4 linked regions of the Homo sapiens genome follow. The protein of the gene in region 1 purifies or fractionates together with the protein of each later gene. This does not show direct contact. Each region holds a gene or a part of one and is shown on either strand. Other genes may lie near its edges.

What was found.
Region 2: the proteins of GPAT3 (region 1) and UBE3B purify together in Homo sapiens (affinity purification with mass spectrometry; one large-scale study listed by BioGRID and IntAct). This does not show direct contact.
Region 3: the proteins of GPAT3 (region 1) and EIF4G3 purify together in Homo sapiens (affinity purification with mass spectrometry; one large-scale study listed by BioGRID and IntAct). This does not show direct contact.
Region 4: the proteins of GPAT3 (region 1) and CHP1 purify together in Homo sapiens (affinity purification with mass spectrometry; one large-scale study listed by BioGRID and IntAct). This does not show direct contact.

The regions. Positions count from the first base shown.
Region 1 is NC_000004.12:83,595,994-83,604,161, forward strand, and holds part of GPAT3 (glycerol-3-phosphate acyltransferase 3), read left to right. Parts: intron 1-864; coding exon 865-920; intron 921-1,436; coding exon 1,437-1,522; intron 1,523-2,057; coding exon 2,058-2,186; intron 2,187-2,650; coding exon 2,651-2,730; intron 2,731-8,168. UniProt on the Homo sapiens protein: Converts glycerol-3-phosphate to 1-acyl-sn-glycerol-3-phosphate (lysophosphatidic acid or LPA) by incorporating an acyl moiety at the sn-1 position of the glycerol backbone.
Region 2 is NC_000012.12:109,492,686-109,500,853, reverse strand, and holds part of UBE3B (ubiquitin-protein ligase E3B), read right to left. Parts: intron 3,037-8,168; coding exon 2,931-3,036; intron 2,622-2,930; coding exon 2,501-2,621; intron 1,222-2,500; coding exon 1,044-1,221; intron 1-1,043. UniProt on the Homo sapiens protein: E3 ubiquitin-protein ligase which accepts ubiquitin from an E2 ubiquitin-conjugating enzyme in the form of a thioester and then directly transfers the ubiquitin to targeted substrates.
Region 3 is NC_000001.11:20,858,898-20,862,397, forward strand, and holds part of EIF4G3 (eukaryotic translation initiation factor 4 gamma 3), read right to left. Parts: intron 3,436-3,500; coding exon 3,331-3,435; intron 1,621-3,330; coding exon 1,488-1,620; intron 1-1,487. UniProt on the Homo sapiens protein: Component of the protein complex eIF4F, which is involved in the recognition of the mRNA cap, ATP-dependent unwinding of 5'-terminal secondary structure and recruitment of mRNA to the ribosome. Functional homolog of EIF4G1.
Region 4 is NC_000015.10:41,232,029-41,240,196, reverse strand, and holds part of CHP1 (calcineurin B homologous protein 1), read right to left. Parts: intron 1-8,168. UniProt on the Homo sapiens protein: Calcium-binding protein involved in different processes such as regulation of vesicular trafficking, plasma membrane Na(+)/H(+) exchanger and gene transcription. Involved in the constitutive exocytic membrane traffic.

The sequences.
Region 1 (8,168 bases):
TACCTCAGCCCTTACCAGCTCTGGAGAGAAGAGTTGGAAATATAGGGTTGGTTGCAGGGAGGACAGGACATAAGCCTGGAAGAATGTCAGTCTTTCTCAGCTTCATGGTGTGCAAATGGAAAGTTCAACCTGAATCATTTAAGGATTGTCTTGTACTTAATGGCCATAATGCAGGTAGGTCCAGCAACCCAATATTCCCATTTTTCAGATGAGGAAACCTAAGTACATGGAGAAGAGCACAAAGCTCATGACACAGAGGCTCTAGAGTCCATGACTCTAGAGTCAAATGACTGTCTAATATTCTCTTTTAAGAATAGGCGAAGACACTGAAAATCACTTACTTTGGTCCAGGCACATTGGCTCATGCCTGTAATCCCAGCACTTGGGGAGGTTGAGGCGGGTGGATCGCTTGAGCTCAGGAGTTCGAGACCAACCTGGGCAACATGGTGAAATGCCATCAGTACAAAAAATACAAAAACTTAGCAGGGTGTAGTGGTGCATATCTGTGGTTCCAGCTACTTGGGAGGCTGAGGAGGGAGGTTTGCTTGAGCTCAGGGTGTGGAGGCTGCAGTGAGCCGAGATCATGCCACTGCACTCCAGCCTGGATGAAAGAGTGAGACCCCATCCCCCACCCACCAAAAAAAAGAAAAAAGACTTACTTTGAAATTAGAGAAATTATAATGGTGCAGATCTTCTTAAACTTTTTTGGAAAGGAAACAACTCAAATTTATTTCTTTTACCTGTATCTCAATTATTTTCTCCTTATTGCTTCACAATTGTGCCAGTAAAGTGCAAGGAATATCAAAAAGGACATCCACCTCTCTCTTTATAAAGGCAGAATTTTGATCCTTTTTTTTTCCATAGACTAAAAGAACATATTGCTGATAAGAAGAAACTACCCATACTAATTTTTCCTGAAGGTAAGAATGGGCCTGCCTCCCGAGCTATAGTTGATAACAACAAACCATCAAAAGTGTGTGAGGAATAGAATTGCCATAGAATTGGCAACCTTAGCCCAGATCTCTGCCCTTAGAGGAATGGGATGGCACTCTCTGAGTTATTAATTCCTTGCTTTCTTTTGAGACTTGATAGAAGTCATGTTACCTTTTTAATTCAAAAGTCATTTCTGGGTAGTGAACTGAGAGCAGAATTGTCCGTGACTTTAAGGGTTGCATGTATTGAAATTTCACCTGTTGAGAAGTTGTTCCCATAGGCCCATAGAGTGTTCAGTAGAAAAGTAAAAGCTTGTTGTTAAACCTGCTTAGTCAGAACTATAGGATTACTACCTTGGCAGGGGTTCGTTTGTGATATGGTAGTACGATGCCTGTAATTTTGATATTTTAAATTATTTTATATCAAAATAATTTCTTTTAAAATTTATTTTTAAAATGACTGCCTTTAAAAATATTCACGCTCCTACCCTCACCCCCTTGCAGGAACTTGCATCAACAATACTTCAGTCATGATGTTTAAAAAGGGGAGCTTTGAAATTGGAGGAACCATACATCCAGTTGCAATTAAGGTAAAACAGATACCATAATAAGAATAATAATTATTATAAAGATATTGGATTGGTAATTTTATTTTGGTAGCATTTCAAACTTAAAATTTGCAAGAACGAGGAACACCAGTTTTCGGATGCACCAGTCCTCTGCACTTTGCCTCCCCTGCTTTCTCATGTGCTCGCTCTCTATATGTAGATAGATGTATACTGGGTGACTCTGTGCCAGGTGTTGTATTTGCTCATAGTGTTAAGTGAAACAGATTCTGTTCCTGCTTTCATCAGCCTTCTAGTTAAGTGTGGAGACAGATATTTAATAGTCATGTAAATAACTCTTGTTGGTGTGCTCTTTGGTTCTATTTAGAAAAGCAGTCATCTCTAGTCAGATGTATTAGCTGGCCCAGTTTACTTTTTTTTTGATAAATTCCATCAAGTGAAATAACTTTTTTTTTCTTAGAGTCTGATAAAGCTGTTTGGCCTACCACCTTTAAAACATTGGGCACGGATGAGAAACCACCCTTATTTCATAACTGAGATGTATTTTCTTTTTTCTCAGTATAACCCTCAGTTCGGTGATGCATTTTGGAACAGTAGTAAATACAACATGGTGAGCTACCTGCTTCGAATGATGACCAGCTGGGCCATCGTCTGTGACGTGTGGTACATGCCCCCCATGACCAGAGAGGTATTCCTTAGCTAACACTTTATCTAATCAGGTAGAGGCAAGGAGATCTTCACCTGAAAATCTGGGTGTCTCCCTTCTCCATGTCATGCTTTTCTGCTTTCTCAGCAAATGGGTCATTTTTTTAATGATGTATTTAGCTCACTTTAAATCAGACCATTTTATATTGAGAGATTATTTTCCACGATGGTTTTATAATTGCTGTTGGTTTATTGAACCTACAGATATTATCTTGGGTAAGACTAATAAAGAGCGTAATAAATATATGCACATGGTAAAAAATTAAACAATACAACACTGCATTTTCTTTATAGAACAAATGATATTTGCTATGATTGATTAAGAATAGAAAGCATTTGAGCTGAAATATGAATCTTATATTTTAAAACAAATACAAATGATTATGAGATGGTATTAAAAACTCGATAACTAAGATATTCTTGCAATTTTTTTTTTTTTTAAACCAGGAAGGAGAAGATGCAGTCCAGTTTGCTAACAGGGTTAAGTCTGCTATTGCTATACAAGGAGGCCTGACTGAACTTCCCTGGTAAGAGAACTTTCAGAAGTACTATCACTTTTTTTTTTTTTTTTTTTTTTTTTTTTTTTTTTTTAGAGAATGCCTCACTCTTTTACCCAGGCTGGAGTGCAGTAGCATGATCATAGTTCACTGTAGCCTGATCATAGTTCACTGTAGCCTTGACCGCCTGGGCTCAAGGGATCCTCCCATCTCAGCCTTCTGAGTAGCTGGGACTACAAGTGCTTGCCACTATGCCCAGCTATTTTAAAATTTTTTGTAGAGATGGGGTGTCCTTGTGTTGCTGAGGCTGGTCTCAAACTCCTGGACTTGAACTCCTGCCTAAGCCTTTCAAAGTGCTGGGATTACAGTCATGAGCTACTGTTCCTGGCCTTTTCTTTTTTTTAATTAAAAAAATCACTGGTAATAATGTCATTTATCATTCTAGTCAGTTATAGGTTTAGCTGAAAGTAATAGTGGTTTATATATAACAATGGCTTAAGTAAGATAGAAGTTTATTTCTCACTTAAACATAACCAGTGAAGGCTGGTAACAGCTCAATCTGTGTTGCTTTACTCTCCTCAATTTGTGCTTCTCTTATGGTCTAAGATGGCTGTTCCAACTCTACTCAGTGTGTACAGCAAATGGCTATGAGGAAGGAATTTTAAAAAGGACACACCCATCTCTAAGAGCACAAGCTGAGAGTTGTATATCCCACTTATGCTTGTATCCATTGGCTAGTACTCAAGTCATGTGATAACACCTAGCTGCAAAGGAAGCTGGGGAATGTAGTCTTTGTTCTGGGTGGCTATATGCCTATCTCACATTTAGGGTTCTTTTTCTTATGAAGAAAGCGGGAATGGATTTGTGAGTGGGGTGGGCATTGGGAGGCAAGGGGCTACTTACAGGCTCATTCATATTTAACTCTAGCTATAACTATATTGTAAGAAAACTGAACAACTTGAAAGAAGGGAAATAAGTGAAATATTTTAGTTATGGATCACTATGGCTTTAGTTTTTGTTTGTTTGAGGAAGATTGAATATAGGTGAATGTATTAGTCTGCTTGGGCTGCCAGACAAAATACAGTGGTCCCCTCTGGATAATGGGGGATATGTTCCAAGTGCCCTAGTAAATTCCTAATACCATGGATAGTACAAATCCTATATAGACTATGTTTTTTTCTATATGTACATAGCTATGATAAAGCTTAATTTATAAATTAGTAATAGAGATTAACAACAATAACAACTGATAAAATAGAACAATTATAATAATACACTGACTAATAAAAGTTATGTGAATGTGGTCTCTCTCTTTCTCAAAATATCTTAATATTTTCAGACCATGGTTGACTGTGGGTAACTGAAACCATGGAAAGCAAAACCTTGGATAAGGGGGGAGTTACTGTACCACAGACTGGGTGGCTTAAACAACAGTTTTAGAACTGTTATTTTCCCACAGTTCTAAAGGCTGGAAGTTTGAGATCAGGGTGCAGCATGGTCAGTTTTTGATAAGGGCTCTCCTCTTGTGTTGCAGATAGCTGCATTCTCCTGTGTGCTTACATGATCCCTTCTTTGTGCAGGCATGAAGAGAGAGTGCAAGTTCTCTAGTGTTTCTTTTTATAAGGGCACTAATCCCATGAGTGCTCCACCCTCATGACCTCATCTAACCCTAATTACCTCCCAAAGGATCCATCTCCAAATAGCACCATATTGGTAGTTAGGGCTTTAACATATGAATTTTGGGGGAGACAAAAACATTCAGTCTATCTCAGTGAAGGTTAACTATACCTACATTATAATGGGGGATTGAATTATTATTATTATTATTTGAGATGGAGTCCTCTCTGTCACCCAGGCTGGAGTGCAGTGGTGCAATCTGGGTCACTGCAACTTCCACCTCCTGGGTTTAAGCAATTCTCCTGCCTCAGCCTCCTGAGTAGCTGGGACTGCAGGCATGCACCACCATCCCCAGCTAATTTTTTTTGTATTTTTAGTAGAGATGGAGTTTCACTATGTTGGCCAGGCTGCCCTCCAACTCCTGACCTCAGGTGATCCACCTCAGCCTCCTAGAGTGCTAGGATTACAGACGTGAGCCACCGATCCTGGCCGGGAGATTGGATTCTTATTTACATACAGGATGTTAAATTAGCAGGCTGTCACAAAACAGTCTATACCTCAAGTCCTATACAGTTAATAAACTCCCTGCTGTCTTTTTTGGTGTTTCAAAAACACTTTGCAAGAAAAGTTTATTTCAGACAATTGTAGCAATGTTTCTAGGAGCAGGATTTGGCCAACTGAGTTAGGCTGTCAGCCAGGAAACCAGGGACCCTCCTGAACCAGCAGAGGATGGTTTAAGGTGTCTGCCTCTCGAAGAAGGGCTGGCTAGATATTACACAGTAAGCATTCACTTCACATCATTGATAGGTTCTTGTAGGCTGTGACCTTAAGCAAAATGACTTTATAGTAGGTTCTTGAATAAATAACATCATTTTGTTCAATGTTGTTTCTTTATAATGTTGATGAGAAAAAATATTGAGTTTTTTATGCATCATTTTGTTTAAAGTTGCAGTTTCTAAGAACCTATCAACAATGTTCAGGGAGGACTTACTGTACTCCATTATGCAAGGGTGGGGAATAACACTAAAATATTTATCCATTCACATAGCGTGAATACAACTAATTGCATCCAGGTAAACCAGTTTCTGATATCCATTATGCAAATTAACAAACCACTAATTTCTACAGTGAAAACTCATTTCTAAAATTTGTTATGCAAGGACCTGGTGCAGTGGCTCATGCCTGTAATCCCAGCACTTTGGGAGGCTGAGGCAGGTAGATCACCTGAGTTTAAGAGTTCGAGACCAGCCTGGGCAACATGGCGAAACCCTGTCTCTACAAAAAGAATACAAAAATTAGCTGGGCGCCATGGCGCACACCTGTAGTCCCAGCTACTCGGGAGGCTGAGGCCTGAGAATCCTTGAACCTAGGAGGTCGAGGCTGCAGTTAGCTGAGATCGTGCCACTGCACAGCAGCCTGGGTGACAGAGCGAGACCCTGTCTCAAATAAATAAATAAACAAATAAATAAAATTTGTTATGCTAATTAACAAAGCTTGAGAAATCGATGGGCAATAAAGATAAAGATAGCTGAAGCCATTAGTGGCATCTCTGAAAGGCGGCCTTCTGATTAAATGCTAGCTGACCACCCTGGAGTAAGAGTTCTTGACTAACAAGGTGTATGACTTGAGTTCCATACATCCTGGAGTATGAAACTGACTAGTCCTAAGGCATAGGTTAAGACTAAACATTTGTATTACACTGTCTACATTGGAATATGTTAAACTAAATGACAGAATCATAGCATCACAAAACTATATAAAACGACCTTGGTCCACAGATGTCCTATAACCCATGGTCATACGTGCAACTGGGTTCCTTTTCCTTATTTAAAACTCTTTACTCACTCTTTATCTTACCTGACACTCAGCCCTCCTGCTTCTATCCTGAAGTCAGTGTCTGTAGTCTCAGACACAGGAAGGGAAGAAAGCCTTGAGAGACAAGAACAACCTAGGGGAGTCAGCCAAGTACAGACTCTCCATCAGAGTGGCTGAACTAAATCCATCAAAAATGATCCTCAGAATTGTCCAGTGTCCTTTTTTCAGGCCATATGCAATTGTATAATAAAATTACTTTTAATTACCTAGCCTCTTAAAAAAAAGAAAGTGGCCTCATTGCCTTTCTAGATTTATTTGTCATGTACCTATTGGTTATGAATTAACATATCTAGATTGTTTTTTCATAGATTGAGTGAAAATATAATTTTATGATCTTAAACTGGCTTTTATATATGGCTGCTCCCTCTCTTAAGAACTAAGACCTGCTGCCATTGCAAAGGGGAATTGGATAAAATTTTGAAGTCTCTAAGGGGTGGCAAATCACAGTTTAAGTGCTTAGAGCAGCATGAGGTTTACTGGGTGCTTGGGAAGGAGAATTGTACAAAATGATGTCAGATTGCTCAAGACTTACATTTTTGCCTGTTTTGGGCTTGGATCTTGTGAAAGGAGAAAGGCCTTTCTTATTTCTTTAGTTTCCTTAGTTCTCACTATTCAGAATTCAGGTAAGTGCTGTTAATAGAAGAAGCTCATTTGGATAAAAGAGGCTTATGTGGACAATTCTGTGGACCTAACAACAATTTATAATCTTGTTTCATGAAAACCTCCCACAACTGACCCACTGGATGATTTGTGGATCACAGTCTGTTTTTAAGTTGAGGACTTATTGCTGTGTCTTAGATTTGAGTCTAGAAGCCAGAACATTGCATTTGTCTCAAGCCGGTGTCTCTGTGGAGGTCAAGTTCTGTCCACATGGCATTGAGTTCACTGGCTAACCTACGATCATTCACCATCATCAGAAAGCATTTGGTAAACATGCATGCTTAACTGGGTTAAAATTAAACAGTCAGAGTATAAAGTAAGCAAGTTCTCAGCCCATGCTCTCCTAGCAGTTAAAATCTAAAACTTTAGATTAGGAGCCAGATAGTGACCTATGATAGTCCAAACTACTCCCAGCAACTCCAGTTTGTTGTTTCTTTATGTGTAGTCCAAAGAAGGAAAAGCATGCAGAGTTCTTATACCCAGGCAGGCACCCTGGAGAGAGTTCAAAGATTTACAGGCTCTGAATGAAGGAATGCTGCTTACATAGGCACTTCTGGTTGAATGCAACTTATGATTTTGTTATTTTATTCGGAATCTGTTTTGGAATATAAATGATTATAAATGCTGGAAATATAGTGCTTTGAATGAAAATACAACTTGTTAGACCGGGCACGGTGGCTCACGCCTGTAATCCCAGCACTTTGGGAGGCTGAGGCAGGCAGATCACCTGGGGTTGGGAGTTCGAGACCAGCCTGGCAAACATGGAAAAACCCTGTCTCTATTAAAAATACAAAATTAGCCGGGCCTGTTGGTGCATGCCTGTAATCCCAGCTACTCAGGAGGCTGAGACAGGAGAATCACTTGAACTCGGGAAGTGGAGGTTGCGGTGAGCCAAGATTGTGCCATTGCACTCCAGCCTGGACAACAAGAGCAAAACTCTGTCTCAAAAAAAAAAAAAAAAAAAAAAGAAAATATAACTTGTTAAACATAGATAGGGTTATATTTGAACAATGATTTATCTTTTTTGAATAATCATTTATCTTTAAGAAATTTACCCACACATATACAGTACCCTTACCATTTCTTCTGTGTATATTTTAAATTTTCCTGTGGTTTTCTAGTAAGACATAGGTAGACGAAAAACCAGTATTTTGTTTTCCTTAAGGAATAATATAGAGAAATAATCCTAGTTTTAATAATCCTTGTTTCAATCCAGTTTTTGTTTGTTTGTTTGTTTGTTTTTGAGACGAAGTTTTGCTCTTGTTGCCCAGGCTGGAGTGCAATGGCGTGATCTCGGCTCACTGCAACCTCCACCT
Region 2 (8,168 bases), on another chromosome or scaffold:
AATAGCCGCCACCCCTGAGTACGGCCAGGCCTGCCTGCTGGTAGGTGCTTCACATGCATTATCTCATTCAATCTTTCTAGAAAGCCCTATCAAAGGGAGGGTGAAAATTATCCCCAGGTTTCAGATGAGGAAAGCAAGGCAAAGCAAGTCGTCCAAGTCCCTCCAAGAAGAGGAAGTGGAGCGGAGAGCAGGCTGTCTGCGGAGGTGCTGCTCTCCTTCACTTACCTCCCACAGCCTCCTGACTCTCAGCACCTCCGCCCCATCCTCCTCAGGCTGAGGTGTCACGCTGGGGCAGGCTGTTCCCTAGCAATGAGTCTTTTTAACTAGATAGGACCCAGGGATGTCACTCAGGTACAACAAAAGAAAAATTTGGGGATTTCCTCCCCAGGCCTTTAGTTTTCTGCTGCAAGGGTAACTGCCAGGGACCCCATGCCTCGAGCAGATATGTGAACAAGAAAACAGCTGGGGCAGCAGAGCTGGTTCCTCTCCAGAAACCACTTTATCTCAGCTCAGGTAGATATTTCAAATTCATGAAGCTGCACCTTACTTGATCTCCCTTCTTCTAGTCTAGTGTTTCTCATGTTTTTAAGTTCATAATTACACTTTTAAAAATTTATATTCCACCTCTTGAAAAGGATTTTGGGTGATTTCTATTCCCTTTGAATCATTTGTCTTGTTTTAGCATCTCCAAAATATGGCAGTCTAGTCAAAAAGTGACAGTGAAGAAGAAAAAACATTGATAAGGTCCATAGCTGAATGGAAGGAACAAAATACAAAATAATAGGATTTCAATTTTGTAAAAAAGGATCAGTATTTCTAGATAGGAAAACTGACAGGATGTTCACTCAAGTTATCTTTGGTTTACAGGATAATGGGCTGGTTTTTATCCTCTTTTGTTCTTACTCACAATTTATTAATATATAATGAATACATATTATTTTTATAATAAGAAACAAAACACCACAAGCTGGAAGAAAGAAAGAAGGAAGAAGAAGATGGTGGGAGAGAGGCAGGAAAGACAGTGATTTGCATCTGGGACTCACCCATAATCCACAGATTGGGAGAACCAGCCAAGGACAGGATGCCAGTGGGTCAGGTTGGACTTCTTCTGAGACACATACTTCCGACAGTAGCACAGCGTCTGGGTGAGCAAACTCACGAACCCATCTGTCTCCTCCTCTAACACTCTGGGGCTGAGGGAGCCCAAGTGTAGGAGGTTGCCTACAGAGAGAGAAGGCTGAGTGTGATGGGCCCAGACAAACATTTTGGTGCCTCCCGGCCCTGCTCCCTGCCTGTGGCTCAGGCGGCCACATCCCATGTGCAGCAAGAAATTTCCACATAAGGGGCACCTGTCAATGCCGGAGGCTGCTGTGTGGTGCAAAGGTAAGAAACGGGCCAAGCTGACTTCAAATCCTGGCTATGCCACAGACAAGGTGAGCCGTGGCCGTCAACCCATGTCTCAAACTTGTTTCTTCATTTGTAAGATTGGAATGATGATCCCTACTCTCCATATGAGGATGAAGTGGCAGGTAAAATGTTAGGCACACAGAGGTAGGTGATATTTAGTTAGTGTTACATTTTAATATTATATTAATGCTTAAAAATCAAGGGTTAACATAAGAAATGGTCTTTGAAGAGTATCTGAGTGTCGTGGGAAGTCGCTGTTATTCAACGTTCACCAGTTAGTCAACGTCACTCGTGTGAACATTCGCACCAGAAACTCCTCATGAAATTTGGCCCCAGGGAAGTTTTTATCTCAAGTCTGTAATCTCGCAGGCTGAGGCGTGTGGATTGTTCGAGCCCAAGGAGACTAGACTGGGCAACATGGTGAAAAACCCCGTCTCCACTAAAAATACAAAAATTAGTCGGCCGTGGTAGTGTGCGCTTGTAGTCCCAGCTACTCAGGAGGCTGAGGTGGGAGGATCACCTAAGCCCAGGAGGTAGAGGATGCAGTGAGCCATGACTGTGCCACTGCAGTCCAGCCTGGGTGACAAAGTGAGACCCTGTCTTCAAAAAAAAAAAAACAAAAAAAACTTTTCCTATCTAAAATAAATTTAGGCAAGGAGAATTCTGTGCCTCTGCCTCAAATGCTTCTATTCATAAACCCTTTCTTCCATCTACAATGAAAACACTGTAAAATAGGTAAAGCAGGCGCTGCTCTGATATAAGCCCCACCTAACTACTCCCTCCCTTCTCTCTTGAGATGGGAATTATCCAGGCAATTCACCACATTTTCACTTTCTCCTTGACTGCCAGGAAGCTAAAGGCTGACATCTAATGTTCATTAACAGTCACTTAACTAGTTTGCCAGGCTGGAATATTTTCCATGTGATTTTTATTTACATGTCTATTTTAACTGTCTATCTAAATACGTGTTTTTTATTGTAAGCACTTCCAATTGTTACAGAAAACAACCAAATCTCTAGAATAGTGACAGGCAAAACACTCGGGCTTTCCCTGATGGCCAGGACACAATCAAGTTCCAGCCACGGATACTTACCCATTAGACAAAGCGTATGGCATCCTTCTAAACTTTCACATACATCACGGCATCGATCTTGGTCTCTTAAAAATATGATGAATTTACGAAGCATGTCATGGGATTCTAAAACAGTGAGGCGCTGCAAAGAATAGCAGACCGTTAAATCAGAAACTGCCAGAAACAGTTTCCTGTAGAGAGTGAACTTGATCACTTGCAGATCACCCGTGGTTATGGAGGATGTGCTAGCAAACACCAAGAAGAAAATGGACAGACAAGAACCCACTTCTTTGGGCTACTAACACAAATGTGTCTATCACGGCCACTGGTCCCAAAGAACAATTAAAGGGAGGTGTGGAAATAAGCAGAGAAGCCATTTTACTTTCTAATGTTTAAGAAGAAAAGAAAAACACAATTGGGTTTTCACGGGGAACTCACAGAGCCTGCTTACCTCAGGGGTCACTGTGCTGAGATGAGTCACCAGAGCAGGCACAGACATGATGTGGATGAGGAACGGCCGAATCAGATTGTCTGAGAACTGTGCAGCAATCACAGGGCTAGACACAGATAGATCCACTCATTCAGACAGGTCTCCGTGTGCATCCAGAACAAAAGCACAACCCCACCAACGTGCTCAAATTCCTAGAAATTATTCTGCGTGGGATTTCTGAGAAAACTGAAGGCTGAAATTGGGGACATACACTGGGGAAATGGACAAGTCAGTGATGGTCCAGTTGCTGATGCCATACTGTGCAGCTATGAAAAACCAGTTTTGAAATTTTACTGACATGAGAGAATGCTCATGCTACAATGAACTTTAAAAAAAGGCAAGATGAAAAACTATATACATGGAAGAGGAAGGAGTTTGTGATGGGGAGGGAGGGAAAAAAGGGGGTTTTGGAGTGCTGGTATAATCGATTTCTCTATTGGGTGGTGCTTACCCAGGTGTGTTCACTCTGTGGTAACTCACCAATAACTCATAATTCAGTTAAGCAGTTTATTTAAAACTATATATACACTATAGATACACAATATATACACATGTAGTGTATCTATAGTATGTATACTATATATAAGTATATATATTGTATAATGTTTCGAAATATAAACACAAATATAGATACATTTTTAAAAGATTGAGGACAGATAAAGTTAACAATGTATCTCTGGTTGTAGAATTATGAGAAATTTTTTTCTTTTTTATGTTTTTCTGCTTTATCTAGGTTTTCTACAATAAGCATGTATTGCTTCCATAATCAAAAAAAGATAAATACTATTAGATAAAATAATGGTCCCTATCCCACACCATATATAAAAAATAATGAAATGAGCCACAGACCTAAATGCTAGTTTTATAACTAAAACTATAAAATTCTTAGAAGAAAACACAGGAGTAAAGCTTTGAGATTTCAGGTTAGGCAATGATTTCTGAGGTTATCACACTAAAAGCACAAGAGTCAAAAGAAAAAAACAGGTAAGTTGTGCTTCTTCAAAGTTTAAAACTTTTGTGATTCAAAAGACACTATCAAGAAAGTGAAAAGACAACCCATGGAACAGAAGGAAACACCTGGAGATCACTTGTCTGAAAAGGGACTTGTATCTAGAGCATATAAAGAACTCACAACTCTCATAAAAGATGAAACATCCAATTAAAAAGTAGACGAAGGATCTAAACATACATTTCTCCAAAGAAGATACACAAATGGTTAATAAGCACATGAAAAGATGTTCAACATCACTAACTACCAGGGAATTGTAAATCAAAACAACAGTGAGATACCCCTGTACAGCCACTGGGATGGCTAAATAAAAAAGACAGATAACAAGTATTGGCAAGGATGTGGAGAAACTGGAGACCTCACACAACACTACTCCTGGGAAGGTAAAATAGCACAGGCACTCTGGAAAATAATTTGGCAATTCTTCAAAAGGTTAAGCATGGAGTTACCACATGACCCAGGGAAGTCTACTCCCAGGAATATGCCCAAGAGAAATGAAAACATATGTCTATACAAAAACTTGTACATAAATGTTCACAGCAGCACTATTTATAATAGCCAAAAAGTAGAAACAACTCAAATGTGGTATATCCATATAATGGAATATTATTTGGCCATAAAATGCATGAAGTACTGATCCATGCTACAACGTGGATGAACTCTGATTATATTACGCAAAGTGAAAAAAGCCAGTAGCAAAAGACCACATATGATGTGATTCCATTTATGTGAGATGTCCACAACAGGCAAATCCAAAGAGATAGAAAGTAGATTAGTTGTTGCCAGGGGTTCTGGGGAGAGGGGAAAAGGGAGTGACTGCTAATGGGTATTAGGTTTCTTTTCAGGGTGATAAAATATTATGGAATTAGATTGTGGTGATTTTTGGGAATAGGCCCCCAAAATCTGGCCATAAACTGGCCCCAAAACTGGCCATAAACAAAATCTCTGCAGCATTGTGACATGTTCGTGATGGCCGTGATGCCCACGGCCAGAAGGTTGTAGGTCTACTGGAATGAGGGCAAGGAACACCTGGCCCACCCAGGGTGGAAAACTGCTTAAAGGCGTTCTTAAACCACAAACAATAGCATGAGCAATCTGTGCCTTAAGGACTTGCTCCTGCTGCAGATAACTAGCCAGAGCCCATCCCTTTATTTCGGCCCATCCCTTTGTTTCCCCATAAGGAATACTTTTAGTTAATCTATAATCTATAGAAACAATGCTTATCACTGGCTTGCTGTCAGTAAATACGTGGGTAAATCTCTGTTCGAGGCTCTCAGCTCTGAAGGCTGTGAGACCCCTGATTTCCTACTCCACACCTCTATATTTCTGTGTGTGTGTCTTTAATTCCTCTAGTGCCGCTGGGTTAGGGTCTCCCCGACCAAGCTGGTCTCAGCAGGTGATGGTTGCACAACTCTGTGAACATACTAAATGCCAGGGAATGGTATGCTTTAAATGAATAAAGTGTATGAGATGTGAATTAGACTTCAATAAAGTTATTTTTAAAAATCACTCAGAGGTCATGCAGAAAAAAAGGTATGAGAACAACTTACAGAGGGGAAAAAAAAGGTTTCTTCTAGCTAATGTGCTCCAATAGCAATGAGCAGAGGTGTTAGTGGTATTTAGGCTCTCAGAATTCACACTATATACTTTCACTTTCAAGAGTACCATTTTTGGGACAAGGATGTTTTATGAAGCTGAAATGCTGAAAATATCAGTACCTATGTTCACCACTTGTCTAGGTGAGGCTAACCAACTGAGCTAACCTCTCTGATCTGAGTGGGGCACATGAAAAGAGAACCATGTTCTTTTCTGCAGGTTAGAAAGAAGTTTAAAACAGAAGAGCACAATTCCCTAAATAGAAGAAAAGCAAATCACAGAGAAAGCTGCTAAAACTACAACCAGTCACTTCGCATTTGCAAGGAAAGGACTGCATTGTTATAAGGGTACAAAGGGCTGTGGCATTCTCTAGGGGTTCTCACAGAAACCTATGGATTCCATCCTGGGCCATATCCCTAAGTAACTTGGCCTGCCTGCCTGACTGGGAGCGACGTATCAGTGGAAGCATTATAGGACTGCAGGGCTGCCTCAATGTTTGGAGGGGTGTGATCTTTTTAGTCCGCATGAGGCCAGACTCAAAAAACCACACACACTGCAAACACTCCTACAACTCCCTCAATTTCTTATTACCGATTTCCCCAGCATGAGGTCAACAGAATCTTTCTTTAGCCTACCTGTAGCTGTTGCATTTAAGTACCTCTGGGTGACAAAGTCTATAAGTGCACTGCTTACTTGATTGTTTAACAGGGCCAGACATGGTGGGGGGTTGAGGAGAAGGATAAACAGAAGAGGTATGACTGATGCACAGTCCCTGCTAACAGAGAGCTCAGAGTACAACCAGGGAGCTGGGCAGGCATATGGGGAAAAACAGAAGCCACGGCTAGTGGTTACATGACTAAGTGCCTGGGCAAACTAGGCGTCCAGAAAATCAATGCCACGGCAGTGTGAGGAACAGGGCAAGTTTGGGAAGGTTCTCAAGTGCTATTTACTAAAAAATATATATATTATTCTTAGAATACAAAAATGTGTCCAACATGTGAGGCAAGTACAAAGAATAAGAAGAAAGAGTATGAGTTCTGGAGTTAAATAGCCTGGGTTTAATTTCTGGCCTGGCCACTCCCTGCTGTGTGACCAAGAGCAAACAGTTTAACTTCTCTGGGCCTTAGCTTCCTTATCTATAAAATGGAGAAAAGCCAGGTGTGGTGGCTCACTCCTATAATTCCAGCACTTTTTGAGAGGCTGAGGCATGAGGATCGCTTGAGGCCAGGAGTTTGAGACCAGCCTGGGCAATATAGTGAGACCCTGTCTCTACAAAAATTTTAAAAATAAAAAAATTAGCTGGGCATGTGCCTGTAGTCCTAGCTACATGGAAGGCTGAGGTGGGAGGATGGCTTGAGCCCGGGAGTTTGAGGCTGCAGTGAGCTCTGATCATGCCACTGCACTCCACCCTTGATGGCAAAGCACGACCTTGTCTCACAAATAAATAAATAAAACGGAGATAAGAGAATGTGGTGAGGAGTCAGTTAATACGTGTAAAAGTTTTAGAACAATGTGTGGCCCATGAATGTTAGCTATTCATATTTCAGGATTTAGTGATCACATCTTGGCACACCACTGACGATTTTATAGACTTTCACTATATTCCTATATGATGAAACCACTGATATCTTACTTTAAAAGGTCCTGATTGTGTTCAATTATATACAAACATTCAGAGGGGAAAAGTTCTATTTGGGAAAAAGGCTTTAGAGTAGCCTGGCCTTAACAAGTGATTCAATGGAATCTAATACATACAGAGAAGAAAAACTACAAGGATGACTGCTGGTTATATTCTTAAAGGAGAATTTAAGTGTGGTAGAATGACTGGATGTGAGCATGTTGGTGAATCATATGTGAATTACAACCACACCAGGACAGGGGAGGGATGCTGGACAGGTAAGAAAGGTGAGGTGCTCCTAGAGCTTGTGTCTCTGGAGGTGGAGGGGGAGGCAGAGCTGCTCCTGAGCTTGAAAGTTCAGGCCTCAGTGTGCTGACCTTCACTGTGTCTGCCAGAGGACAGTGGGCAATGCTGCTGGAATGAGCTGCCCCACAAGGTGACTTGGGTAGGGACAGTTGCAGTGAATCTGTTTCTTAGGCTTCTGGGAAAACCTGTTTGTACCTAGACATTAGGGCTCATTAAATACAACTCACATAACTTCCCTAGAAGTATGAAATGAAGGCACAATTGTTTATTAGATAAATAGTTATACTTCCATAACTAATGATAGCATAACCGGTTACATCCTGTTCTTCTGTGTGAGGGTCTAGCCTCTAGAGGCATGTGGTCTAATATGGTAGCCACTGGCTATATGTGGCTACTGAGCACTTAAAAATGCGGCTGGTCCAAATTCAGATGTGCTCTAAGTACATACCAGTTTTGAAGACTTGGCATGAAGAGAAAAATGTAACACATTTAATTTTAATTAAAATAATTTAAAAATATTGATTACATGTAAAAATAACATTTTGGATATATTAGTTTAAATAAAAACATATCATTATACTAAATTTCCCTTTTATTTTGACTTTTTTTTTTTTTTTTGAGACCAGGTATCACTCTGTCATCCAGGCTGGAGAAGCTCAATCACGGCTCG
Region 3 (3,500 bases), on another chromosome or scaffold:
GAGGCAGAGAACTGCTTGAATCCGGGAGGCGGAGGTTGCAGTGAGCCGAGATCGCGCTACTGCACTCCAGCCTGGGCGACAGAGCGAGACTCATCTCAAAAAAAAATACTTGCTGAATGAATTAATAAATTGAAAGATCACCGAACTGTCTATCCAAAAGCTTTTCTGGTCCTAACATAACGTCTTGATTTTCTCCGTGCTATCTGATATTACTGATCATAAACAGACTTGCTTCTTCCTTGTCTCTATGACACTTGTATCTTAGTCCTTTCTCTCCACTTGTCTGGCACTTTTCCAAGAGTTCTTTTCTTCCTTTAGTCATATGTGAATATCCTCCATGAATTAGGCTTTGGTATCTTCTCCTTTTCCCTCTCAATCTGGTTCAATAATAAATAAAAGTTATTACCCAAAAGGCACTGCACTAGGTACTAGAGCGAGGAAGGTAAGTGTGGTATCTCAAGAAACTTAAAAGTAAACTTTCTTCCATGCAGAATTCATCTCTCCTAACAACTTCACTATGAGCTCTACTGTGTCTGTGACAATAACTAATGGTTACTGAGTATTTACTATCAGCCAGAAAATTATCATTTCCCTCTGAAAAAGGTTTTCTTTTCCAACGTTCCTAAACTTAGTAAATGGACTATCGTCTCAGGTTTAAAATGCCTTCTACTTCATCTTTCACTTTTTTTGCATGTCTCTATTTTTGTTTTGTTTTGTTTTGAGATGTAGTCTCACTCTGTTCCCCAGGCTGGAGTGCAGTGGCGCGATCGCGGCTCACCGCAACCTCCACCTCCCAGGTTCAAGTGATTCTTCTGCCTCAACCTCCTGAATAGCTGGGACTACAGGCACACATCACTATGTCCAGCAAATTTTTTAGTAGAGACGGGGTTTCATCATGTTGGTCAGGCTGGTCTCAAACTCCTGACCTCAATTGATCCACCCACCTCAGCCTCCCGAAGTGCTGGGATTACAGGCATGAGCCACTGCGTCCGGCCTGCTACAAAGTGCCCCTTTCTTAAATAAAGTTTTCTTTCAGCTTTCTGTCTCTCTTCTTTTTCTCTAAATTTTAACAGTTAATGGAGAACACATTTCATAATTGATATACTATCTTCCATTTGCTTAACAAATGTTCCTCTTTTGCTTGTCAAAAGTTTTACCTTACCAGATAAACTGTACACTTTGAGAGGGAAGTAACTACATTTTCCACTTCCTTTTCTCGTCTCACCAATTCTGAGTATATAGAAGATGCTCAATAAAGTCTTATTGCTTACTGGCTTTTAAGTAGTGAAAGAAATCATGCTTTGTTCCTGCATTCTCTACTTTTACTCAGTAACTTTACTCTTCAGGTGAAACTGCTTCACCTAACAATCACCACTCTATTCTTTGGGCTGTTCTTTCTGATCTCATTTTATACCTAAATACATAATTCTTAATATGTATTCCTGAAACTTCCAAGTTCTCTAAACCCTGGTGGATTCCGGCCTCACCTGGTCTTCTCTTCTCTTTGGTCATGAGTTGCTGGACCTTCCTTTGCTCTTCTTGTTCTTCTATTTTAGCCTCTTTGTGAATCTGTTCGATAGTTTTAGGCCCTTGATCTGCTCTTCGAGATACCCAATTGCACTATAAAAGCAGAAAATAAGGTTATCTGCCAGATAAACTGAACATTTTTTAAAATTTAAAAATTAGCAATTTTTACTACTGGAAAAGTACAAAATACCTACAAAAGCTGTATTATGGCAGTTTCTCATGTATCTTATAGATGACACTATGAGCAGTTTAGGATTAGAGCTGAAGGATTAAAATCTTCTCAGTCAAAACTGGCCAATTGTATACTACATATTCCAATAGCCAATGGATACAAAGAACAGGGTGAAAGACTGGCCCAAATTTATTATTATATTTTTAAGCATGGCATATATTTCTCTGTGGACTAAATGGATTTTATCTGTATCAGTATTTTGTACATTTGAAAGGAGGAGAGAAAAATAAAAATGATGAGGATTCCTTGGCCTTGCCTTAATCTGTGGGATTACTACTCAGATCATATCACATTCCATAGGGGTTCTAAGTCAAGGATGACTCATGCTTTTATTTCTCCAATATCATGGTTCTGATATTCTACACAAAGGTCCATACCACTCTGCCCTTTGGTTATCCCCTGTATTAAGGACAAAATAAGTTGTCACTTTATACTTCTCCCTTCTCTTTCTAGCAACAGTCCCAACATCTGATATAAGTGGTTGATAACATGGGTGAAGACAACCACATCTAGTCTTAGCAAGATAAAGAATCATCATCAATGCTATCTGGCCTGGGTGGAGGAGAAATAAGAGGTAGGGCTTTGTTCACTTTCTCTAGTGTAGGGCTTGATGTAGTATATTCCCTGTAGGAGTGAAACTTACAAAAGAGTAACTCCCTGTAGGAGTTAAACTTAAAACAGAGAAAAGTAGTAGTAACAAAAACTGCACCCGGTAAGAGAAATGAGAAAAACAAAAAAACAAAAAAACAAAAAAAACCCAGCAGCAGAATAGGAGGGTCACAGGAAAAACGAAAGAGAAGAAAACACCAATATCTGAGCTGGGCACCTTACGTAATTATTCCATTGACTCTTCAACAAATCTGCAAGGTAGGCAACATCCTCATTTTAGAGATTAAAAATGTAAGGCTCAGAGAGTTAAAGGTATTTACTGTGGAGATGAGACTTGCTGATTATTTAGCTCACAAAGACTAAATTTAATTGAATTTACATTTGAATGGAGTTTGAATTCAGAATGGCTGATTACAAATTGCAAGTGGCTGGGCGTGGTGGCTCACGCCTGTAATCCCAGCACTTTGGGAGGCTGAGGTGGGCAGATCATTTGAGGTCAGGAGTTCCAGACCAGCCTGGCCAACAGCGTGAAATCCTGTCTCTACTAAAAATACAAAAATTGCCCAGGTGTGGGGGCATGTGCCTGTAATCCCAGCTATTCCAGAGGCTGAGGCAGAAGAATCATCTGAACCTGGGAGGCGGAGGCTGCAGTGAGCCGAGATTGAGCCACTGCACTCCAGCCTGGGCGACAGAGTGAGACTCTATCTCAAAAAAAAAAACAAAGCGCAAACAAAATTGCAATATGGTTTGATAATCAGAATAAGGAGAAGAAGCACGTAACTGGCAATAGGCCTTTTGTCCCTTCTCAGAACTCTCCCACGGAAAGTTTGCCAATCCAAATTCTGAGTCCTGAAGCAAAAGCACTATCTTTACACATGTAAACAACAGGACATCCTTCCCCAACCCAATTCCTTTAAAGAGACTGGACCAGCAGGCTTATTATTATTTTTTTTCCCACTCACCAGCCTTAGGTCTATAACATCTTGAAGCATGAACCGAATCCTAGATGAGGTTTTTCTTTCTTTCACAATTTTCTCCATCTGATTAAAGTACTGGTCCATACGTGGCTGCAAGAGACAAAATCATTAGTACTCCTGTCTGAGAAACTTAAACGTAATTTTACCAATTTACA
Region 4 (8,168 bases), on another chromosome or scaffold:
CAAAATAAAAATAAAAATAAAAAATAAAATTATTTTAAACCAAAAAAATCCACAAATGAGCCATTAAACATCTTTCTAATCTATATCATCTAAAATAACTGGGCACTGAGGCTGGGCGTGGTGGCTCACACCTGTAATCCCAGCTGTAATCCCAGCACTTTGGGAGGCCGAGGCGGGCGGATCACGAGGTCAGGAGATTGAGACCATCCTGGCTAACACGGTGAAACCCTGTCTCTACTACAAATACAAAAAATTAGACGGGCGTGGTGGCAGGCACCTGTAGTCCCAGCTACTCGGGAGGCTGAGGCAGGAGAATGGTTTGAACCTGGGAGGCGGAGCTTGCAGTGAGCTGAGATTGCGCCACTGCACTCCAGCCTGGGTGACAGAGAGGAGACTCTGTCTCGAAAAAATAAATAAATAAAAAAGAAATAAAATAACTGGGCACTGAAACCTCCTATAGTATGTTAAGACCAGTTTATGGCTGCTTAAATTCAAAATGTGGCAAGGCCTGGTGGCTCAAGCCTGCAATACCAGCACTTTGGGGGGCTGAGGGCGGGCAGATCACCTGTGGCCAAGAGTTCAAGACCAGCCTGGCCAACATGGTAAAACCCTGTCTCTACTAAAAATACAAAAATTAGCCAGGTGTGGTGGTATAATCCCAGCTACTTGGGAGGCTGAGGCAGGAGAATCGCTTGATCCTGGGAGATGGAGGTTGCAGTGAGCTGAAATCTCACCACTGCACTCCAGCCTGGGCGACAGAGTGAGACTCCGCCTCAAAACAAAACAAAACAAAACAAACGATAACAAAAAATAATGTACTAATATGTTAAAAATAAATAATGTAAATAAGTAGCCAAAACATTAAAAAAAAAAAAACTATCTTCCAGGACGAACTGGGTTATATGGGAGTCAGTGGAGAAACATACAACCAAATGTCAACTTTTAATACTAATCAATATGGTCATATCTAAACTTATCTCCAAAATTTTAGAACAAATTTTAGAACCATAACGATATGGTTACAAGTAATTTTGTTAACAAAAAGAAGGAGAGAAGGCTTTAATTTAGGTACTAAATTCACTGTGACAAAGAATATAAAGCAATCTCAGAACAATCCCAATCTACCTATAAAGGAGCTACACCATCCATGTGTAGAAAGGTACTGGAACTGGTGTGAATGAAGGCAGATCATGTTTCCAGTGAAGTATTTTCCCCAGAAGGCTCTAAGCTAGTCAGATAGGTGCCCAAAACCTGCACAATTCTTGGTAACCCAAAGGAAATAACAGGAGTTGACAGTTACTCTCAGAGAAGGCCGTGCATATAAACGTGTCTTTTTTCTTTTTTTGAGATGGAGGCTTGCTTTGTCACCCAGGATGGAGTGCAGTGGCGCGATCTTGGCTCACTGCAAACTCTGCCTCCCAGGTTCAGGCCATTCTCCTGCCTCAGCCTCCTGAGTAGCTGCGACTACAGGTACCTGCCACCACCATGCCTGGCTAATTTTTTTTTTTTTTTGTATTTTTAGTAGAGACCAGGTTTCACCGTGTTAGCCAGGATGATCTCGATCTCCCGACCTCGTGATCCACCCGCCTCAGCCGCCCTAAAGTGCTGGGATTACAGGCATGAGCCACCGTGCCCTGCTATAAACATGTCTTGAATGAAGCTGTATTTTTTCTCCACTGGTATGGGTATATAATCATTTTAAATTGTTAAAAGATTATTTAAAAGACCCTGTTTGGCTGAGGGCAGTGGCTCATGCCTGTAATCCTAGCACTTTGGGAGGCTAAAGTGGGAGGATCCCTTGACGAAAGGCCAGTTCAAAACTAGCCTGGGCAACAAAGCAAGACTTCATCTCTATAATCAATCAATCAATCATTAGCTGGGCATCGTGGTGCATTCCTGTACGCTGAGCTATTTAGGAGGCAGAGGCAGAAGGACTGTTTCAGCCCAGGAGTTCAAGGTTGTAGTGAGCTATGATCACACCCCTCCACTCCAACCTGGGTGACAGAGTGAGACCCTGTCTCAAAAAAAAAACACACGCCAAAAAAACAAAAAAAGACCCTGTTAACGTTGCTGAAATCTTTCTATCATCACTGCATTGTGCAAAGAGGAGGAAGGCATTTCACAGAAGTGCGAAGCAGAAGTGGCAGAGGAAAGAATAAAAACAAAAAGGGAGTAAGAAAAAGTTATTTTGGAGGGCCAGGCATGGTGGCTCATGCCTGTAATCCTAGCACTTTTGGGAGGTGGGTGGATTACGAGGTCAAGAGATCAAGATCATCCTGGCCAACATGGGGAAACCCCATCTCTACTAAAAATACAAAAATTAGCCGGGCATGGTGGCACGTGCCTATAGTCCCAGCTACTCAGGAGGCTGAGGCGGGAGAATCCCTTGAACCCGGGAGGCGGGATTGCACCACTGCACTCCAGCCTGGTGACAGAACGAGACTCCATCTCAAAAAAAAAGAAAAGAAAAAGTTATTTTGTCCTTGCCTTTATTCCAAATCTTAATGCAGAAGAACAGACTGATAACCTATGTAAAGATTACAAGTACAGCTAAAGGTAGCTCTAGATAAAGGAAAGTTGAAGCCTGCGCTTCCCGGAATAGACTACACCTTAACATTCCCCCTGACATGAAGACTTCAAGCCCTGGACTAGTCTCTTAGGGATTAAGAGAGATTTTAAAACATTATATAAAACAAACAAAATCTATCTTCTTATAATTGGAGAAATTTGAATAGGAAGTGAATGATAGATAATATTAAGGTGGCTCACGTCTATAATCCTAGCCCTTTGGGAGGCTGAGGCAGGCAGATCATCTGAGGTTAGGAGTTCGAGACCAGCCTGGCCAACATGGTAAAACCTCGTATCTACTAAAAATAAAAACAATTAGCCAGGCGTGGTGGCACATGCCTGTAATCCCAGCTACTTGGGAGGCTGAGGCAGGAGAATCATTTGAAGCCAGGAGGCGGAGGTTGCAGTGAGCTGAGATCGCGCCACTGCACTCCAGCCTGGGCGACAAAAGTGAAACTCCATCTCAATTAAAAAAAAAAAAAGAAAAAGAAAAAAAGGGGCCAGGTGCGGTGGCTCACGCCTGTAATCCCAGCACTTTGGGAGGCTGAAGTGGGTGGATCACCTGAGGTCAGGAGTTCGAGACCAGCCTGGCCAACGTGGCGAAACCCCATCTCTACTAAAAATACAAAAAATTAGCCAGGCCTGGTGGCAGGCACCTGTAATCCCAGCTACTTGGGAAGCTGAGGCAAGAGAATGGCTTGAACCCAGGAGGCAGAGGTTGCAGTGAGCTGAGATCGAGTCACTGCACTCCAGCCTGGGCAACAAGAGCAAGACTCTGTCTCAAAAAAAAAAAAAAGATAGTATTAAGAAGTATTATCAACTTTCTTAGGTGTGATAATAGTATTGTTGTTACGTAAAAACCATCCCAATACTTAAGGGATACATGCAGAAGTATGAAGGGGTAAAGAGTTCCAATACCTGCAACTTTCAAATGGTTTATCCAGAAATTTACAAAAATAAAGCTTATATCTTCGCAGCTGCTGCTGGGGTCAATTATCTTCTGAATGAATAAACCTCCAACTACTCTCTGGTCTGGACCACCATCCCCTCCTTGCCCCCGCAAAAAAGTTCCTGGCCAGTGGCTCACCTCTGTAATCGCAGCACTTTGGGGGACTGGGATGAGCGGACCACCTGAACTCAGGAGTTCAAGACCAGCCTGGGCAACATGGTGAAACCCTATCTCTACAAAAAATTAAAAAATTAGCCAGGCGTGGTGGCATGTGCCTGTAGTCCCAGCTACTCAGGAGGCTGAGCTGGGAGGATTGCTTGAGCCCAGAAGCTTGAGGCTGCAGTGAGCCGTGATCATGCCATTGCACTCCAGCCTGGATGACAGAGCAAGACCCTGTCTGAAAAAATAAATAAATAAAAATTAAAAATCAGGTAGTTGCCAGGCACAGTGGCTCACATCTATAATCCCAGTACTTTGAAAGTCTGGGGTGGAAGGATCATTTGAGGCCAGGAGTTTGAGGCTGCAATGAGCTATGATTGCACCACTGCACTCCAGCCTGGGCAACAGAGTGAGACCCTGTCTCAAAAAAAAAAAAAAAAAGTTCTTAGGGTCTCTTTCCCACAATGCCCTCTCTAATTGACAAATAGTTGCTTCTTACTCCTTTATGGCAACAAATGAGAATAAAACTTTGCACTAGAACTCAAAAAGTACAGAGCTTTACAAATCACTTAACCCAAAACCAGTTAAAGGTGTTAGTTATCCATGCATTTCCATTTCAATAGGAGGCAGAAGACAGCCTGGTTTTCTGAAGTGACAGAACCTTCAGGCTGGTGAGGGCTGTGAAGGGTCCTACATTTGGAGGCACGAGAAACCTGAAGTTGAATTTCTACTTACATTCTAGCCATGATATTGTTCTCAAGCAATTGCCTTTGCCAGGCTTGTACTCTGTTAGAACTCTATCATTACTACACTCTTTCAAACAAACAAAACCTTACCAACCTGTGCAACTTACTTCCTAAACCTGTTCAACACCCTTCCCGTACCACATGACATATACCAAAAGGTAGAGACTAAAAATAATCTGCATTCATTACTACTTGAATGGCATGAATTGTTTATCAAGGTGTTTTTGTGGTTGTTGTTTGTTTTTGTTTTTTTTTGAGACAGGGTCTGTTTCTCCCAGGCCAGAGTGCAGTGGCACGAACATGGCTCACTGCAGCCTTGACCTCCCGCCTAAGCAATCCTCCCACCTCAGCCTCCTGAGTAGCTGGGACTGCAGGCACGCTTCACCATGTCCAGCTAATTTTTTTTAAATTTATTTTTTTGTAGAGATGGGGTTTCCCTATGTTGCCCAGGCTGGTCTTGAACTCCTGGGCTCAAGCGATCTGCCACCTTGGCCTCCCAAAGTGCTGGAACTACAGGTGTGAGCCACTGCGCCTGGCCTCATAAAGTTTTAAGTAATTCACAGCCAGCTTATTGCTACAATTAAGTGAATTAAGGGTGATGATTACAGAAACTCCTAAGACATTTGTGGCTTTATCCCCGATTACACCTTTTTTTCAAATAAGCTTTATGAAAATGCAGAAGTCTGAAAGAAGGTAGTAGAACAAAGATAATTTAGCAAATATGCCAATAGAAAGCATTTCTTAGACAATTCCTGTTAAAACATCATAACAGTTTCATAAACTGTTAAAAACTCCTTTAAAAATTTTATTTCCTTATAATTGGCAAAACATCTGTACTTAATTCCTAATCAACTGTCCACTACAAAAAGAAGTATAAAATGCTGTCACCTCCCCAATGATATAGCCCTACACATAGTTTTTATAACTAGTACATGCAAATGGTATTTTCCCAATAAGACGATTGTTAACTATGGTTCAAAATAATAACACTCACATGAAGTTTATTATACCAGACACTATTCTAAGTAGTTTGCATAATTCATCTCATGTAATTGTCGTAAGAATCCTATAAAGTAGGCACTATTATTATTCTAATTTTACAGATGATGAAACTGAGGATCACAGGTAATTCTTATCCAGAATTACTTTTCCAAACACTTACTGTTATTCATTAAATATCAAATACCAGCTAATCTAGTCATGTAGAAATTCTAATCTTTTTAAATTTGCAAAAAATATGGTTAAATATAATCATCAAATTCCAATGCACAGCTTTTGCACTGAATATAAATTTAGTATTCCTCAATTATGTTACATTTTGTACTGGCAAAGGAAGTAGTAAAATGTCTTATAATTGTTCTTAAAGTGCTTCTGATAGATAGTTTTCCAAATTCTTCATAGAAGAAAAGGCAGATGAAAATGGGACAAATTCCACCTCTCTACCCACTCCAGATATCCGTTTTTATTCTTCAAAATCTTTTGCATCATACCAAATTACTCCTTGAAAAAACAACTCTGGGCTTGGCGCAGTGGCTCACACCTGTAATCCCCGTGCTTTGGGAGGTTGAAGTGGCCTAAGAATCACTTGAGGCCAGGAGTTTATGACCAGCCTCGACAAAATAACAAGACTCCATCTCTACAAAAGATAAAAATAAAAATCAGGTAAGCATGGTGGTATGCGCCTGTAGTCCTAGCTACTTGGGACGCTGAAGCGGGAGGATGGCTTAAGCCCAGGAGTTTAAGGCTTGCAGTGAGCTATGCTCAAGCCACTGCAGTCCGGCCTGGGAGACAGAGCAAAGACCCTGTCTCTAAAATAAAGAAAAAGAAAAAGAAAAAACAACTCTGATGATGGACACTATTTGGATAAACTGATGGTTCCCAGGGCAAAGGAATGACTTTGTAGCAGGCTTAGGGGGAGATCTCTCCTGGAAGTCACCCAAAATGCCCTAGGTTAATCTATCCAAATCTACTCCACCCATGTATCAAGGCCCAATTCCTGTCCTCCATGAGGACAGCCCACAAGGACTCTCTCTCTTGCCTGATTTCTGAAGGTGGATGACACACAATTCTCAGCTTTCTTATGTCATGATGCTAATCATAACTCTCTTGGGCTTATCTCCCCAACCAGGTTGGGGGCGTTTTTTGTCACCATCTGCTCTGAGTACCTAGCACAGTACTGAACAGACACTGTAAAAATTCAGTAAGCACTTGTTTCACTAAGCATTCTGGCTCAATACATACATTTGCACTGGTTGTGGAGAGAATCTCCCTCACAAGTGACTCACTCTTTGGCAATGGGGAAAACAGCTTTTCCATGAGCACTTAGTTGTTTGTCCACAAGCCACATGGTAAAAATATCCCATCCAGGTCATTTCCATTTGGTCAAATGTATATAAACCAGAATGGGATTACTGCTCCCTTCATTCTGAAGCAAAAATGGCTTTTTGCATCTTCACTATGGTTTACACTTTCTCATTATGTGACTCTATATTTATTTCTCTTTGATTCTGCTTATTTCTCCATGTGACTCTTTAACACAAATACTTTAATTCGGTGTCACCCTAGACCTAAAGTAGTACTAATTACAAATGTGGCCAGAAGTTATGGCCACAAAACGTAATAAAATGCTTGTTGAATCCAAACTGCTTGCGTCTCCACTCCGAGGGTCAGAGTAAGTCAGTGGCCAAACAAGTACTGCAAATTATAAAGAGCTAACTACTTTGGGTCATTCAAATCGTGAAAAGGACTGCCTTGGTAGGTGGAGAGGTTACCATCATTAAATGTCTTTACAGAGAGGCTTAAGGGCCATATTTTAGGGGAGGCTGAAAGAAGCAAACCAGTCCAGAAAGGGGTGGGGCTAGAAAACATCCCTTCCAACTTGAAAACTCCAGAAAGTTGAACTTGTCACAAAGCAGAGAACAGCACTTAAACAGGCCTGAAAAATTCTGTAGTTCCCCATAGCACTCCTCAGTACTATCTGCATATGGGCCGGAGTGAGTTACTGGTCATGTCATTATCAAAGACAAGTATGATGAAGAGACAGAGCTCAGGTGCTACATCCTTCATTAACTCAATAAGAATCATAAAGGTTTACTGAAAAGATAAAATATTGTATGCATCAATACAATTGTATCATACATTGCATTATCAAGGACTATTCAAAGTTATGATGGTATTTTACAGCGCTTCAGAATCCCGAGTCCTTTTGCTCCTTTGTTCAGACTAATGAGGAAGAGACTGGACTATAAAAAAAAAAATCAGTTCTGCAGGGCACGGTGGCTCACACCTGTAATCCCAGCACTTTGGGAGGCCGAGGTGGGTGGATCACTTGAGGTCAGGAGTTCGAGGCCAGCCGGGCCAACATAGTGAAACCCCATCTCTACCAAAAATACAAAAATTAGCCAAGCGTGGTGGCAGGCACCTGTACTCCCAGCTACCTGGGAGGCTGAGGCAGGAGAACTGCTTGAACCTGGGAGGCGGAAGTTGCAGTGTGCCGAGATCACGCCACTGCACTCCAGCCTGGTTGACAGAGGGAGACTCCGTTTCAAAAAAAAAAAAAAAAAAAATCAGTTCCTAGTACAAATTCACACGGAGATTTTTGGAGCACATCCAATTTCAATAGCGAATAAAAAAGTACACCAGCATAGTAGAAATCAATACATATATGAGATTAGGACAGCAAGTATCGTCGTGTAAGTAAAAAACTGGTGGTCACAGTATCCGTGTTTTTTCTCTAGAAGTTCAGA